Linked DNA regions of Homo sapiens: region 1 is linked to region 2. A link means that fine-mapping ties the variant in region 2 to the expression of a gene that starts in the linked region. Tissue or cell type: blood mononuclear cells. Region 2 holds a variant in brackets; the other region holds the start of a gene. All regions are shown on one strand. Distances are between the middles of the regions.

Region 1 (7,136 bases), 35 kb before region 2:
TTGTAGATCTTATTTGGAGAAATGTTTATTCAAGCCAGTTTTTTGGTTGGGTTGTCTTTTTGTTCTGGGTTGTAAGAGTTCTCTTATATTCTGGATATTAGACTCTTTTCGTATATATGATTTGCAAGTCTTCGCACATTTTGCTTTTGTTTATGCCATTCTTTTAGATAGGAAGGCATTAGTGAAATAAGCCCTCCGTGAAACTCCATATCTCCAAAATGGAAATATATCCATAGTAAACATCAAAATCAAAATTAAAGGGGGTTCAGTAAAACAATGGAGTAAGGAGGGGGGATGAGAGAGAACTATGTCAATAGTTTATAATGACAAATGAGAAGAAATATAATTGAAAATATGGAAATTACTTTTCTGGAAGTCAGTATGTCAATTACAATAAAAATAAGGAGGGTGAAAAATTAAAACTTTTAAAGCAAGAACAATTTTTTTTCATAAATTTATGAACATTTTTGAACATAAGTTTAGGTAAACAGAAGACAAAATTAAAATAAATGTAAATTAATATATTTGTTTGGGTTTTCACAAAAACACTCTAACTTAAAAGAACTTTTGGTAAACCAAATGCCAATTTTCAGTACTATTTCTATTTATGAGAGAAGAGGAGAAAAAAAAATGAATGAACCCAGTGAAAGCCATTCTCCCTAAACAGACTGCTGATGGATGTGCAGATGGTAAGAACCTTCTGCTCTTGCTGAAACTTGCAGAAAAACACTGTAGATCTTGCAGCTTTTAGAACTGCCAGCCAAATGAAATATTATTACCTCCATCTGATTTGTATCAACTCCAGTTAGTAAAGTTGTAAGTAATCATTTCTTTAGTTATATGACTTGCTATTTGTACTAGTGAAGATATGTCAGAAGTTTGCTTTTAAATCAATTGGATTTTATTCATATATATATTTATATATATATGCACAGGCACATACTGAAAGGCAAAATAACTTGAAAATATACTTTTTCAGTTAGTGACTATAGAATTCAACTTTTTTAAAAAGAGGGCTGCACTCTTTCATATGTTTTTCAATATATTTTGGCAGACTGCCTAACATTTCATTTTGATTATCATAAATTATGATTACTACTACCTATATGTTGTAATTACTAGTTATAGCTTCTCAGAAGAAACGAGTGAAATAGTTTTGGTTGTCTGTTAAGACCAATGAGGGAATTTCTTTTTATTTCCTATGGAAGGAACAAGCCTATTTTAATATCTCCCAGTGGCACCTCCCATGCAGAACCTCACTAAATACTTGGCAAGTTATTTTATAAAATTTCAGTTCAACATTCCAGATACACAAAGAAACGATAATACAAGAGAGACAAAGTGACATAAAGGACCTTTCAGCATTGAAGACAGTCAACCACTACGTAAAGTAACTATGAAAGGGCCTCTCCTTAACTTTTAAGGAAGAAAAGAAACACAGTAATTAAAAAAAAAAAAAAAGACGAATTTGCTCAGAGCGCCATACTTCTAAGTTCACCAATTATAGATTAAATTGTAGACTATTTGGCAAAAACATTGTGTTTTAAAGGTGGCACTATCCAGTCACCAAATCAATTCCAATATGAAATGTTAAACAATTTTTTTTCTTCATAAATAAACTCTGACAAATTGTGGATGTTTTGGTGAGTAGGATAAGTGGATCCTGGAAGGAGGTTATAGGCATAGGTACTGTCTGAAATAATACAATTCTAAATAGAACAATAAGTACAATTCTCTCGCATTAATTGTTTTTCCAAATGGCAAAATTGAAAGTATTCACCCTCTGAACACTACCCAAATCAACTCGTGCTGCCATAGGAGCATCTCATGATCTGTACAGGACTCCCAGTTAATCAATCCTGGGCTTTCTGTAGTGGCGGCTGTGGTGATCAGCAGTGCGGTGAGTGGGGTTTGGAGTCAGGAAGAATTGGGTGCAGTCCAGGCAAACCGACGCTCTCTATCTTTAGGGATTGAGCAAGTATCCTCACCAGTAAAATGAGGATAGTAATACTGTCTTATTTATAGGGCTGATGTGAGGATTAAATGAAACCATGCACATGAAATTCTTAGCGTGGTGCCTAGCCCATAGTAAGCTCTCAATAAATGTTGGCTAATGGTGTCTTCTAAGAAAATGACTCATTCTGAAAAACTCAATCTTCCCTTGGCTTCTTCTGGTCTCTTTTTAAGTGTTACTCCTTTGATGATTTTTCTGACCTCCTTCCCCACCCTAACCTAGATTATGTGCTTAAATTGATGCTGTTCTCATTGTGGGTAAGAGCTTTGATCATACTTGCATTCTCTTTGCTTATTCAGTTCTTTGTCTTTTTGTCTGATTTCTGTATTTTACCCTGGAGACTTTAGGCCCTATTTGAAGGAAATGGCCATGCTGTCTGGCTTCTTGATGAGTCCCAGTACCCAGCACAGAGCACAGTACACTGTAAGTGCATGGCGTGTATTTCTTGAATGAATGATTTCTTGACATTGAAATTTTTTTTAGCTTACTAGCTTAAGACATTTGGTGAATAGTGCATTTAAAGTATATAATTTTGTGTAGCTTAAAACGATACACAACCAAAAAACTGCAAGAAAACAAAGTGCAATGCTTGGAGAGAGGTTTAGTGAAAAGAATAAGGTGTGTGTTGGGGAGCAGGGACATAGGGTAGGGTTTTTTTTCTTGGATTTGACATTGTTGGGGCAAGTGGAAGAATAATCAACAATGTCTGAATCTTCACATTAACCAGGCATACACAAGCATCCAATGGCTGCTTGAACCTGAGTGTCTTTGCTGTGAATAAAACTGCCTGTGTTCTGAAGTCATGGACTTGAAAGGGACCTTAGTGATCGTCACATCCTATGCTCCACTTTATAGATGAAGAAACTGAGACCAGAAAAACGCAGTGATTCCCTGCTAGTAGGGCTGGGTCTAGAATTCAGGTCTGCTGACTCCCAGACGGTGTGGGAAGGGGCATTCGTTCCTTTAAAAATAAGCACTGCTGCTTTAATAACATCAGCACCTGTTGTTCCAGCTTCTGCAAGAGAGAAGCTATTAATTTCTCCTTCATCAAAGCTGAATTTCTGGTCTGTCTGAACCTTGTTTTCTTCCTGACTGCAGCTGTCTAAACCACTAAGGCCACATGTTGGACGGAGGCACTTTCCTGCTGGAATCCGATAAATCACCACACCCAAATATAGAAAGAAAAAGGGACACAGATCATCCACACCGTGGCCGAATGTGTGACATCTTTGCTGAACTCTCTCCGTTCCACCTTGTGGTGGAGGCCTCCAGTCCACCAAACACAGCCCTAGGCGTGTGAACCCTGCCACAAACATCGGTGCTCTTCCTGCACAGGGCCTGGGACCAACCGTGGCCAGGACATCAGCTGCTGGAAGCCGAGAGAGTTCATCTGAGTGGCGATTTTATGATCTGCAGAGTGGAAAGTAATCATAATCCCTTGAGAAGTTTGCAGAATCGAACCGAATGTTGAATGCCAAAGATCTTCACAAAGCAAGTTGAGTTTCTTCCGTTATTATTGTTATTTGTGTTAGCGAGGCCTGGATTGCTTAGGTTGGGTTTCCTCCCGCGCCTATTCCAGCAGGCAGACCCCGCCCTTGGCCACACCTTTCTCCTTGCCCGGGGTAGGAAAGTGAGGGGCTGCCCGGCGCCCGCGGGCGTCCCTGAGGTCGGGGGTGGGGGGGAGCCGCGCAGCGCGCATGCGCGCCGGGGAGCCGCCGGCCTCTATAAGAGCGCGGCTCAGCGCGGCAGCGAGCGGAGTCGGAGCTGGTCTGGCGCCGGGCGGGGCGAGGCGAGGCTGTGGGCGGCTGCTGCGCTCGGCTTCTCCCGTAGCCCGGAGGAAAGAAACTTCCGTGGGAGGCTTCCATCGGTGCGCACACCTCCCGAGGGCGAGGCAGCGACCGGGAGAGGGAGAGCCGGCCGGAGGCTGCCGGGCTCCTGTGGGACCGCGCTGCAGCCGGGGAGGCGGAGAAGGGGAACCGGGGCGAGCCGCCCGCCTGGATCCGCGCCCAGCAGCAGCCGCGGCCGCCGCCAGCTGGGCAGGCTCCCGGGACTGCGGCTGGGGGCGCGCAGGACCCTCGCCTGCGTCCTGGACGTTCCCGGGGTCAGGAGCGCTCCCTCGGCGACGTGCTGGGAAGATTGGCCGTCGGCCCCGCCGAGTGGAGCGTCGGGGCTGCACCCCCGTGGGCTGCCCGGGCGGCCCGGCCGGAGCCATGCGGACCAAGTTCGGGGCAGAGGAGGCTGAGCGCGGCCGGCTGCGTCACTTGCTGCCCAGAGCCTTGCGTGCACTGCCCGCCTTCGCCCCTTCTACCCGCCCGAGGAGGGAATAAAGGAGGGGAGACGGGCCCTGATTCGCGCGCGGGACCCTGAGGCTTAAACCCTGCGCAGAGCCCTGGCTCCAGGTCCGCGGCGGCGCGCCCAGCGGTCATTCGGCTCGAGTGAGCATCCCTTCGGGGATGCTCAGGGAGGGTCCGGTTGCCAGTGAAACCTCCAGAGGCTTCCGGACGACAGCCCCGGGGGCCTTCTGACTGCATCCCGAGATTTCCATCAGCGAGTGCAACTCATAAGGCAGTCCCTAAGGGGACCGGGCCACCGGCTGAGGACGGGGATGGCTTAGGAGCTCCTGGACCTAGGGCCCGGCGTCGTCGCCTCCTGGGCGTCGCGGCAGAGGGGAGTGGCCCGCGCGGAAAGCGCCGCGGGACAGTCAGTGACGAGGCCCGGGGGTCGCCGGGGCCACGACTTCTCGGAGACCGTCCTGCGCTCTCTGGAGACGCGCTGTCCGCGCCCAGGGTGGTGCCATGTGGGGCGCTCGCCGCTCGTCCGTCTCCTCATCCTGGAACGCCGCTTCGCTCCTGCAGCTGCTGCTGGCTGCGCTGCTGGCGGCGGGGGCGAGGGCCAGCGGCGAGTACTGCCACGGCTGGCTGGACGCGCAGGGCGTCTGGCGCATCGGCTTCCAGTGTCCCGAGCGCTTCGACGGCGGCGACGCCACCATCTGCTGCGGCAGCTGCGCGTTGCGCTACTGCTGCTCCAGCGCCGAGGCGCGCCTGGACCAGGGCGGCTGCGACAATGACCGCCAGCAGGGCGCTGGCGAGCCTGGCCGGGCGGACAAAGACGGCCCCGACGGCTCGGCAGGTAGGGCGGCCTGCGCCCAGCGCGAAAGGGAGGACGGTTGGCGTTGCCTGGACGTCAGGGACCTGGGAGTTTGAAGGGGGGAAATTCAGGAAAGGGCCTAGGACCAGGAGGCGGAGTCTGCCTTCTGGCTTATTATTTGGTCGGTGTGGGTCCCTAATTCACCCTCACGGGCCTCAGTTTCTCCATCTGTCAGCCAAAGGGTGGCTTAGAGTTAATTTTCCGAACAAAATCACACTCCTAAGGCAGTGTGGGCCACAGACAGCCCCCATATTCCTTCTGACCAGGGTCCTCCGGGCCCCTCTGGCGTCTCCTGTCTCCATAGGGCTTCATGTCTTAGGGGTACCCAAGGAGACGGCGAGGGTGCGCCCCCACCCGTGAGGGCCTGGCAGCGGTGCTCCCCTGAAGGCTCCCCGAAAGGAAGGCAGCTCCTCAGGGCTTTCCCGGGGCTGCTGCCCCGTGCCAGACGCCGCGGATTCCCATCTTCTCCACGCGGCGGCCCCTCTCCCCTGCAGCGGCCCGCCTGTGGGGCTTCTGGACTGTTTTCCTTACCACGTCAGACTTAGTAGGTGTAACATCGGAGCAGTGCCCAGCCTTGCTCTTTGTGGCTTTGATTTTTTTTTTCTTTCAAATTGCCAAAGCCAGAGTTGGAAAGTAAACCCGTGAAAGAATTTGGTAGGTTGCACTTCACTCTTCAGAAACCTTCCGGAATGCCTCCCTGGGGTGTCTACACCAGTCACTCCGTGTGTGTGTGTGTGTGTGTGTGTGTGTGTGTGTGTGTTATTTATTTCGGGGGAGGGGAGGTGTAGAGGTAAAATGGCAAACGTGTCCCCGAGGGGGCGGCTCCTCCTCTTTGTGGGCCCGTTGTGTTTACCTGGGAGGCTTTTCGCTAGCATCCTGAGCCTGGGTTCGGGCTGCTTGAGCTTTGGCACAGCGTAGTTTGTGTTTATAGAGCTGCCTCCCAGGACCTCGTGAGAGACAGCTCTTTTCAGTGCCGTTCCCTTTCGCAGTCAAGCATTTTATTAGCATGCTACTCCTATTGTTCTGCTGTCTTGAATCTGAAGAGAGCGTAATTCCAGAACCAGCGCAGTCTTAAAACGCAAGCTCAGTCTCGCAGACTGTGTGGCCATGGAAGAAAGCCCAGAGAAGGGAGCCAGACCCCGAACTGCTACAGTGAGATGTCTGCTAGATTGGGCTCATTAATGGTCTCCAAAAAGTTGGGATGGCTTTGGATTAGTCGGGACTTCTCAGGACGAGACTTCTCATGACGCCCTGTGTTGTGCATGGATGCCTTCTTCATGCTACTTTTAAACGTTTTTTTCCTAAAAATTGTATTTCTTTCACTTTTCTTCTGCAGTGAAGGGCAACATGCCTAATTAAGCCTGCCGGGGGGCTTATAGTAGCGTTACATTCCTTATCCCTGTGTAGTTATTTACATTTCCAATTAAAAATCCTGGAAAGAGAACACTTATTTCTCCCCAAAACTCATTATGTGGACTGAGGCTGGTTTCAGCTAGTTTCTGCTATGATTGGGGTACATTTTTTTTCCTGCTTTACTACTATTAATTTATTTTTTGATAACATATTTAGGGCTGGTGTCTTAATTTAGAGAATGAAATATTTATAACACGCCAAGGAAAAAGCCTGCATCCACTTCTCCAGTGATCCGTAGTTAGCCTGAAGTGATAGTGTAATTAGGACAGTTCTACTGCTGGGCGCCAGCTGTGCTGCAGACACTGTAGCAAATGTTTCTACCTGCTAAAGGGGCGCTATATATAGAAATTGCTCTGTTCAGCATTGAAACTCCAGGAAATATTCCACAGTCAGCCTTTGGTTAAATACCTATAAAGTATTGTTTTACTTACAGGGCATTATTTCTCCATAATTCCACCTGGTATTATACTTTAAAAACACTGACTCCAGCAATACCAGAACAGTGAAAAGGAGCATAATTAGAAAGCCCGGCTGCTCTAATGGATGATGAAAGGGTATTCAT
Region 2 (8,097 bases):
AAGGAAACCATGTCAGTATATTTTTTAAAAAGGTGTTTCCCTGAAATGTTTGGAATTCTTTTCAATTAGAACTGTGTGTGAAGGTCTTGTTTAAGCTCTCATACACACTGGGCTGATCATGACAATTGTCTGGGTCTCAAGGCCTATTTCAGAGTTTCTACTGCAAAGATCTGGTGGCGATTCCTCTGTGTCCTCCTCTCAGTGTCTCCGTGTCCTTCCTTCTCCTTCTGAGGACTTCTGTGGTCGTCTTGTTCTCCCCACTCAATGTCCTATACTCTTGCATCTGGGTTTACTCATCCTCTGACTCTAGAGCTAAGAGCGACAGGTGTGTTCCTTCGCTGTGCAGGCATGTTATAAATTCATTCATTTCCCAACAGTGAAAGTCCAAAATGTGCTCTGAAACAAACGTGGGTTCTAATGTAAGTGGATGCCAAAGGCCCAGCAGTCTGGATGTTGGGAAGGGAGTATTCAGAGCCTGACCACGGCTGGGAGTCCTGAAGGGGTTCTACCACCACTCTGACCTGTGGGGTGGCCCCATGTCAGACAGAGGCAGAGAGACGTTTAGAATATATGCAGAAAGGCTATGTTTCTTTTCTTTCTTTACAGAACGAGAAGGGCGGTGGAAGAAGGAATTTTTCGCATCTGTATCTGAGTCTGCAGTGGAACAAGGAAAGGCGCGGGTTTGGGTTGGCTGCCCATCGGCCGCCATGCACTGAGTGGTGTGGCCAGCCATGCAGCAGGTGTGGGGGTGAGGGGCGCCTGGACACGGCGGCAGGACTGGGCCGAGTGCACCTGGAGAGGGTGCGGAAGACTCTTCCAGGGCATCAGTTGGTTTGCCCTGCTGGAAATGTGGCTAAGAGGTTCAAATAAATGTTCTCAGGTTGACCACCCCGATAGAGAATTTTGTGATTTCACTGCAATCAAGAAGTTTATGCCAATTTTACACACAAAACAGGAATCAAAGCAGGAGAGCAACCTGCCTACAGTGAAGTCTGCATGTGGCCCGTTGGACTTAACCTCTGAGTTAACTCAACAGGAAGCAAGTGTGCCCTGCTCCAATTACACAGGATGGGCCTCTCACGCAACATAAAACTCCTTTCCCTTTCTCCCAGGACAACTAGTACTGATGTTTAAATATTGGTGAAACATAATGTTTTTAATTTCACACCTCACAGAGCACAGTTGAATGCTTCATAACGACATAAACAAAAGTTAGGCTAAGCACTGCAGACGAGTTGGGAGGGCAAAGATAGCTTCCCCTGTGGTCTGCACTCCAGGTTTGCGAGGGAATATGTAACTAACAAACTGCTTGGCTAAGGCCACAGAAATGTGTTTCCTGGTGTTTTGGCTGCTGACGCCAGTCTTCTCTGACAAAGATGTGTTAACACTGGGTGCAACAAACTGAATCTCTTTCCTAAGATCAGTCAGGAAAATTCATGTCTTATTTCTTCCTGGATTTCTTTTTGGTGGTGTCATAAGCACGGATGACTTCTTCCTGACTAACAGCTCCGTGTTCTTCTTGAGAAAAAGCATACCCATCTGAAAGTGAAGCACACAGGAGAAACTGGTTAACAGGAGAATTGGGGGAGCACACTAGGTTTAAAATAAGCTGCTTTTTTTTGGCAGCGTGCGGGTGAGTGCGACATCTGGCCTCCTTAGCCTTGGATAGGTGGAGGCTTGAGATGAAGAAACCTGTGGCCATAGAGGGGCCGTGGCGGCCGTGTGCAGGCTAACTGGGGTCCCATGGTTCTAGCTGCTGATGCTGGGAAGGGAAAGCCTCTGAGGGTAGGTTTCCTATTTCTAGGGGGCTGCGGCTGAGCTCAGTGTGGGAATCACACACAGTGGGTCACTGGTCCCCGACTCCACTTTCCCACTGCCAATTAAGAAAAAACACTCCTGTCTGCCTGATGCTGTAGGGCAGCCAGCTAATTTATGAAGCTGTAAACATGCCAGGGAAACACACACACAACACTAATAGTGCAAGCTGGCAAAATGCACGTGATACCTGGAGCCTTCCTGTTTATTTATTTGAGACAGAGTCTTGCTCTGCCGCCTAGGCTGGAGTGCAGTGGCGCGATCCCAGCTCACTGCAACTTCTGCCTCCAGGGTTCAAGCAATTCTCCTGCTTCAGCCTCTTGAGTAGCTAGGGCTACAGGCATGCACCACCACGCCCAGCTATTTTTTTTTGTATTTTTAGTAGAGACGGGGTTTCACCATGTTGGCCAGGCTGGTCTCAAACTCCTGACCTCAAGCAATCTGTCCACCTTGGCCTCCCAAAGTGCTGGGATTACAGGCCTGAGCCACCACACCCAGCCCTGTTTTTAAATCAGACTGATCTGGACTGGTAATAAGTAATCAAAGTAGGGTTGTTTCCATGTAAAGAAAAAGGTTACACAATAAACTCAAAAGGAATTTAGTGATTGATTGGACCTGTGGCCATACAAAGACTATTCTTACACAATCAGTTCATATACTATTAATAAAATAAATAATAGCCAAGACTCATTAAATGCCATGTGTCTAAGACACTGTGCTATAAAATAAAGCTCATTTAATCCTCCCAGAAACCCTATGAGATAGGGGATTATACTCCTCCCACTTCACAGATGAGAAAACTGAGGCACAGAGATTTTTGTGACCTGCCCAAGGTCACAGACCTCGTGAGTGGCAGAGCTGGGAAGCAAACCCAGGGTCCACACTCTAGAGCTGAGAACCAGCTTTAGTGTTCACAAGCCCAGAGTGGGGCTTTTCTTCCAACTGGCCCTTCCCACAGAAAGACATTTATAAGGCCTGCTCTCCATTGGCTAACCCTTCTGTGTCAGGGGTCTGGAAAAGTCCCACAGCTCAATTAGACATTCTGGCCAAAAGACAACACAATAAAAAAACCTGACAATCTTGAATTCCATCCATGCATGCGTACAACTTATCAGGGGAGCTGTGAGTTCACTGTCATACTCTTTAAAAGGAGAAAAGAAGTCGAAAAGGGTGCCCATGAATCAGTTCCTGGACTGCCTGTTAATTTCCTGAGGCATCTGGCTTAAAAAGGAAATTTCTAGAGTATCAAGACATACAGTAACAAGACAGAAGAGTCCTCGTGGGATGGAGAAGAGGAGGAGACTTTAAAAGAAGACACTCAGGCTGTTTTCTTACTCTGTGTGTTCCCATAACTGAGAGTCCCGGTCCTGGGCTGGCTTCCTGGCTCTTCCAGAGAGCATGCCTTCTGGCCACTGCCTGAGAATCCCAAAGGCTCAGGGGGGTTATCGGGGGAGGCAAGGGCTTGTCTGCAGAGGTGGCCTGAGAGTTGACTGAGGACATGGGCTGAGCAGCAGGGAGGAGGGCCCAGACCAGTGAGGCCACAGGAGGAAGAGACAGTGGGCGGGAGAGAAGGTGATACAAGCTGAGCCAGGGTGAACAGAACAGAAGAGAACAGAACAGAGAGGAATCTTCCACAGGGGGCTTTTGTCTACTTGCTCACCTCCATTTCTAGCAAAACAAAACCTACAAACCAAAAATTCCCACCACATGGTAGCCACAGTGAAGCAGCTCCCAGACCATTGTGAGCCCTCAGACAGCTGGGTACAGGAGCAGGTGGGTGTCTGAGCCTGAAGGCAGCATCAGCCTGGAGGGGAGCTCCCTTGGGGGCGGATATGCTTGTGCCAGCCTTGGGCCCACACCTAGTGCACTTGAACTTCCTGAC[C/T]AGGTAGGTGGCTGTGCTTTGATTCTCAGGGCTTTAGAGTTTTCACATGATCTGCTTTCAAGCACCGAAGAGCAAATGCCACCACTCCTGTTCTCCTAAGAGCTTTTGGATTTTCACCAAGTTGCTTAATCAGAGATTAGCAGCAGGGACAAGGAAACCTCCGTTGCCCAGCTTTGGAGGAGCTGCCCCAGCCTCCTGCCTCCCTCTGGCACCGTGTGGCACACACACTCTCATCCCCAATCCTGTACAAGCTGCCCTTTATGAAGCATTTTTACTGCAGTCCAAGAGGAGACGTCTTTCCTTGGGATGTTTCAAAGCAAAATCTAGCAAATAACACTGCTTCGTCTGCTCCAGTAACAAGGCTATGTACTGTGGTCAACTTGGACAATTTCCATTCTCCAGTTCTTTAACAAGGAACGTTTCTAGTCCACATCTGAAGTCATCCTGAGGGGGCCTGGCAGAACAGCAGCTGCAATGGCAGGGTCGTCACTGGCTCCACAGCTGCTGCACCACTCCCGGGGCTGCTCCTCAGTCCTACAGAAGTGGTTCTGAGTAAAGAACAGTCACCCCAAAGAATGGGACATACTCTTTTATAAACTCTTCCGGTGGGAAGCTGAGGACTACTGAGCTCTCCACCCTGAAGATGTCTTTCTCCACTCGCTTGTTTTCATCTTAGATTCTGGTGGCCCCAAGTGGCTGCAGCATGGGGTCAGGGTGGTGGCCAGGAAACAAAGGGTGGTTCTAGTCCTTGCTTGCTGCTACTTGTCCATGTGACTTTGGGATCTTTAAGCTCCCTGGGTCTTGATGTACTTTTCTGTAAATTAAATGGCCTGGACCAGGCAAGGCCCAAGTTCTCTCAACCTCCAGTCCTCTCTATGGGCTCCAGGACATGTTCATGGCCCGTCACACCCAGGCTGCAGGATTCTCTCCCTCTGTCAGTGCTAGTTCACACTGCACCAACACGGAGGCCTCTGCATCCACGTCAGAAAAGAAAGGGTCGGTGTCAACAGTCCATCCAAAAAGAATAATTAACTACCTATTATACCTCTTTTGGCCTGCTTTTTTCTCCTGGTTGGGGGGAACTCATGGAGACATAAAAATAAATTAGGGAGTGTCCTTTCGGGAAAGGTATCTTAGCCTTTGGAATAGTCTACTCCCTGTTCAAATGGAAGGTGCAAAAGCCTTTTCTTTTATTTATCTTGTTTTCCATAACATGCCTGTGTCTACTGGAAACCCAACTCCGGGGGTTTCTTCAGCTCATAACTCTGTCACTTCTTCTGTGTGCATTAGTGCCATGGCCACAAGGGCCTCCCATGGGATTGCAGCGGGATGATTTGGCCCCTCTGGGATGGGAAGGGTTTCGAGGTTTCCCTTTGAAGAGACAGGCAGAGAAGAGTTGCCCCTCCTGTTGTAAACCTCCCAGGGTAAGTAGAGCAACGTGAGGTCTGTGCTAAATGTCTCCCACCATCCTCCCTAGTTCCCATTGGCTGCACCTACCACCACATTTCCAGCGTGTTGTACGCTAAGACTTTCTTAACCTTAACCGAGAATGAAAGTGGACTCTACAATTCAAGAGTGAAAGGAGAATGGCCTGATAGGTTTATCTTGGGAGAGGGAGTCCTCCCATGTTCAGATAAAATTTCAGATTAAACATTTTCCTCTTAGAAACCAGGCCTGGCGGGAGTTAGAGCTGTCATGGGAGGAGTTTTACTGGAAAACCAGACACCATCACCCCTCAACCAGTCCTGCCTGCCCAGCCTCTGTCCCACCGGATGAAGATACAGACCTGCTCCCCAGCTCTGCCTAATGAACCTTTAACTGTCATTTGCATCCAAACGGGGAGCTCGGAGGAAGCCTCCAGCTCTTTGCACTCCCTACTTTCACTCATGTTTCAGGAAGTCCTAACAGCCAGAAAAGTCCTGATGGGGGCCTGGAGGGAGCTCTCATGGACCCAACTAACTGAACTTTCCCTGGCTGGCTTCCTAAAGCATCTGCTTTCTTAAACAGCCACAGCCAGAATGGAGAACAGAATCGTGTAGGTGAAAGGAGGTGGGAGGAAAGACGGATTTCTTAGTTGTTTTGTCTTCTCCGGGTAGAACATTTGGTGAAATCCATAAAATTATGTCTTTTTTTTTCATTATTTTGGAATAAAACTCCCCTTAAGTAGCATTCCTTTGAATCTGTGCTCTGATAGCATCTTAATGAAAATAGCAGTTTCCTGTCTGGAAAGATTCCTAATAGCCATAGAAATGAGAAGACCATGGGGACAAAGAGGAAATCAGACTGTGTAGGAAATGCTGATTACAAATATTGTATGTTGGTGGCTCACAGGAACTAAAATACTACCAAGATTAGAGTTTTTCCTGCTAGTTTCCTGGACAGACCCAGGCGGAACATCAAAGGCTGAGACCTGCTATATGCCCATCCTGCACCCCAGGACCAGCTCTGACCACCCGACGATCTTCTCTGGCTGTTAGTGACAGAAACGTCCTAAGTTATCCATCAGGTTCTGGTACTAGTCACTGAATGTTTAAAAAATGTGGTGTGATTTCAGAAGCCTTCTTATTTCTTATATTTATTCAGTAGATTTTTTTTTGGCCTTCAAAATATTGACTTAAGAAAAGCATTTAGTAGTTGTCTTTAAGACATTTATGACTCTCCCATAAAAATTCTCATTCGGTCTTTGATCACAACATATATATCGTGTATATTCTGTCTATGGTTATTTTGAAACATTCATCAGAGAGGCAACACGGCTCAACAGAACAGACCCTGTAGAGTTCTGGGAACCTGTATGTGTTTTCTCTGTGTCTGGCATACAGAAGGTGCTTTACACATGCTGTCATGAAGACTCACAGGACTGTGTAAGATGTATATCATTAAAATTCTTTTTTCTCCACAGGAGAAAATAAAAATTTAGAGAAATTAAGTTTCCCAAAATTATTCAGCTAATGGCAGAATAATAATACCCAACATTTATTGGACCCTATATTGCCTATATAGACACTTTATCTTTATGATCTCATTTAATCCTCCTAATTGAAACCAACCCAATAGTCCCATAGACAGTTTTGTTTTTGTTTTTTTGTTTTTTTAACATAGAAATGACCCTTCTGGTCTTAAAGCTTGACATTTGTATTTGTTTTATCTGAGTTCCTTCCTTAGGTAGGGACCCACAGGCCTCTCGAAAAGTAGCAAAGATCTGAAACTCACCCAATGATCTCATCCAGACAACGAGATGCTAAGCCCCTCATTCATCTTGATTGCTTCCTTACCCCTACTGATTCCTGTTTTCTTACACATTGTTAACATTTCTTCCCTGCTATATAAACCCCTAATTTTAGTCAGTCAAGGATATGGATTTAAGACTAATCTGCCACCTCCTTGGCTATAGCACCAGATAAAGCCTTCTTCCTTGGCTATAATTGTTGTTTCAGTGATTGGCTTTCTGTGCAGCTGTGGGTGGCAGGACCTACACTGAACCTCTGGCATCCAGTAAGTTCTCATATTACCCAACTTTACAGATGCAGAAGCAGACATTAAGTAACATGCCCAAGGTCACGAAAAAGCAGGGGAGCAGGGACAGGAACCCAGGCAGCCCATCTCCAGAGGGCTGCCCTACAGTTAGCACTCCTGTCCCATCAAACTTCTTGACTTACCTCTCTTTTGGGCCAGAGTCTGAGGCTGCAATCCAGACCTCATGGCATGCCACTGAGCAATGCTGGGCCACCCACTTTCTGACCTGAGCCTCTGCTTTGTGTCCTTGGGGTGGCATTACCCACCTCCCAGGGCAGTGGAGCATTAAAGGACAGAAGCATGTCAGTCCCCTTCTTCCCATACGATATTCCACATGGGAAAGTGAGGACAGGGGGTAGATTACTGAAAAGCAATGATACTCTGTCTCCCTCCTTCTCTCTCCATTGAGAAAGTCTGCAAATACCTGTTGACAGGCAGAGCTCAACAGAACACAGATCCTTCACTGCCTGTACTGTGTGAACAATGATTCTTCACGTTCATAAATCTGTCTCTTTCTTTCTTTCTTTTTTTTTTTTTTTGAGACCAAGTTTCGCTCTTGTTGCCCAGGCTGGAGTGCAATGGCATGACCTCGGCTCGCTGCAACCTCCGCTTCCTAGGTTCAAGTGATTCTCCTGCCTCAGCCTCCCAAGTAGCTGGGATTACAGGCATGTGCCGTCACGCCCAGCTAATTTTGTATTTTTAGTAGAGACGAGGTTTCACCATGTCGGTCAGGCTGGTCTCCAACCCCTGACCTCAAGTGATCCACTCACCTCAGCCTCCGAAAGTTCTAGGATTACAGGCGTGAGCCACCGCGTCCGGCCCAACTCATCTCTTTCTACCAGTCGTTTCCCTCTAAACTCCTCCGGAAGGGAAAGGGAGGCAGG

The links. PIP is the estimated chance that this variant, and not a neighbour inherited with it, causes the effect.
Region 1: it holds the start of SHISA2, and the variant in region 2 is fine-mapped to the expression of SHISA2 in blood mononuclear cells (TOPMed, PIP above 0.99). The same link has a PIP of 0.9 or more in T cells and whole blood.

Annotation. Positions count from the first base shown.
Region 1 is chr13:26,048,649-26,055,784 of GRCh38, reverse strand. SHISA2 (shisa family member 2) reads left to right here and starts at 3,769. Exons shown (of 2, transcript NM_001007538.2): 1 at 3,769-5,143. The coding sequence starts at 4,810. It overlaps LINC00415 (long intergenic non-protein coding RNA 415), which reads left to right. Exons shown (of 2, transcript NR_146971.1): 2 at 3,113-3,509.
Region 2 is chr13:26,013,330-26,021,426 of GRCh38, reverse strand. ATP8A2 (ATPase phospholipid transporting 8A2) reads right to left here. Exons shown (of 37, transcript NM_016529.6): 37 at 1-1,539. The coding sequence ends at 1,442. Among named protein-coding and RNA genes, the nearest start is that of SHISA2, 35 kb to the left of the region's middle. The variant C/T (reference allele first, on the strand shown) is at 3,698.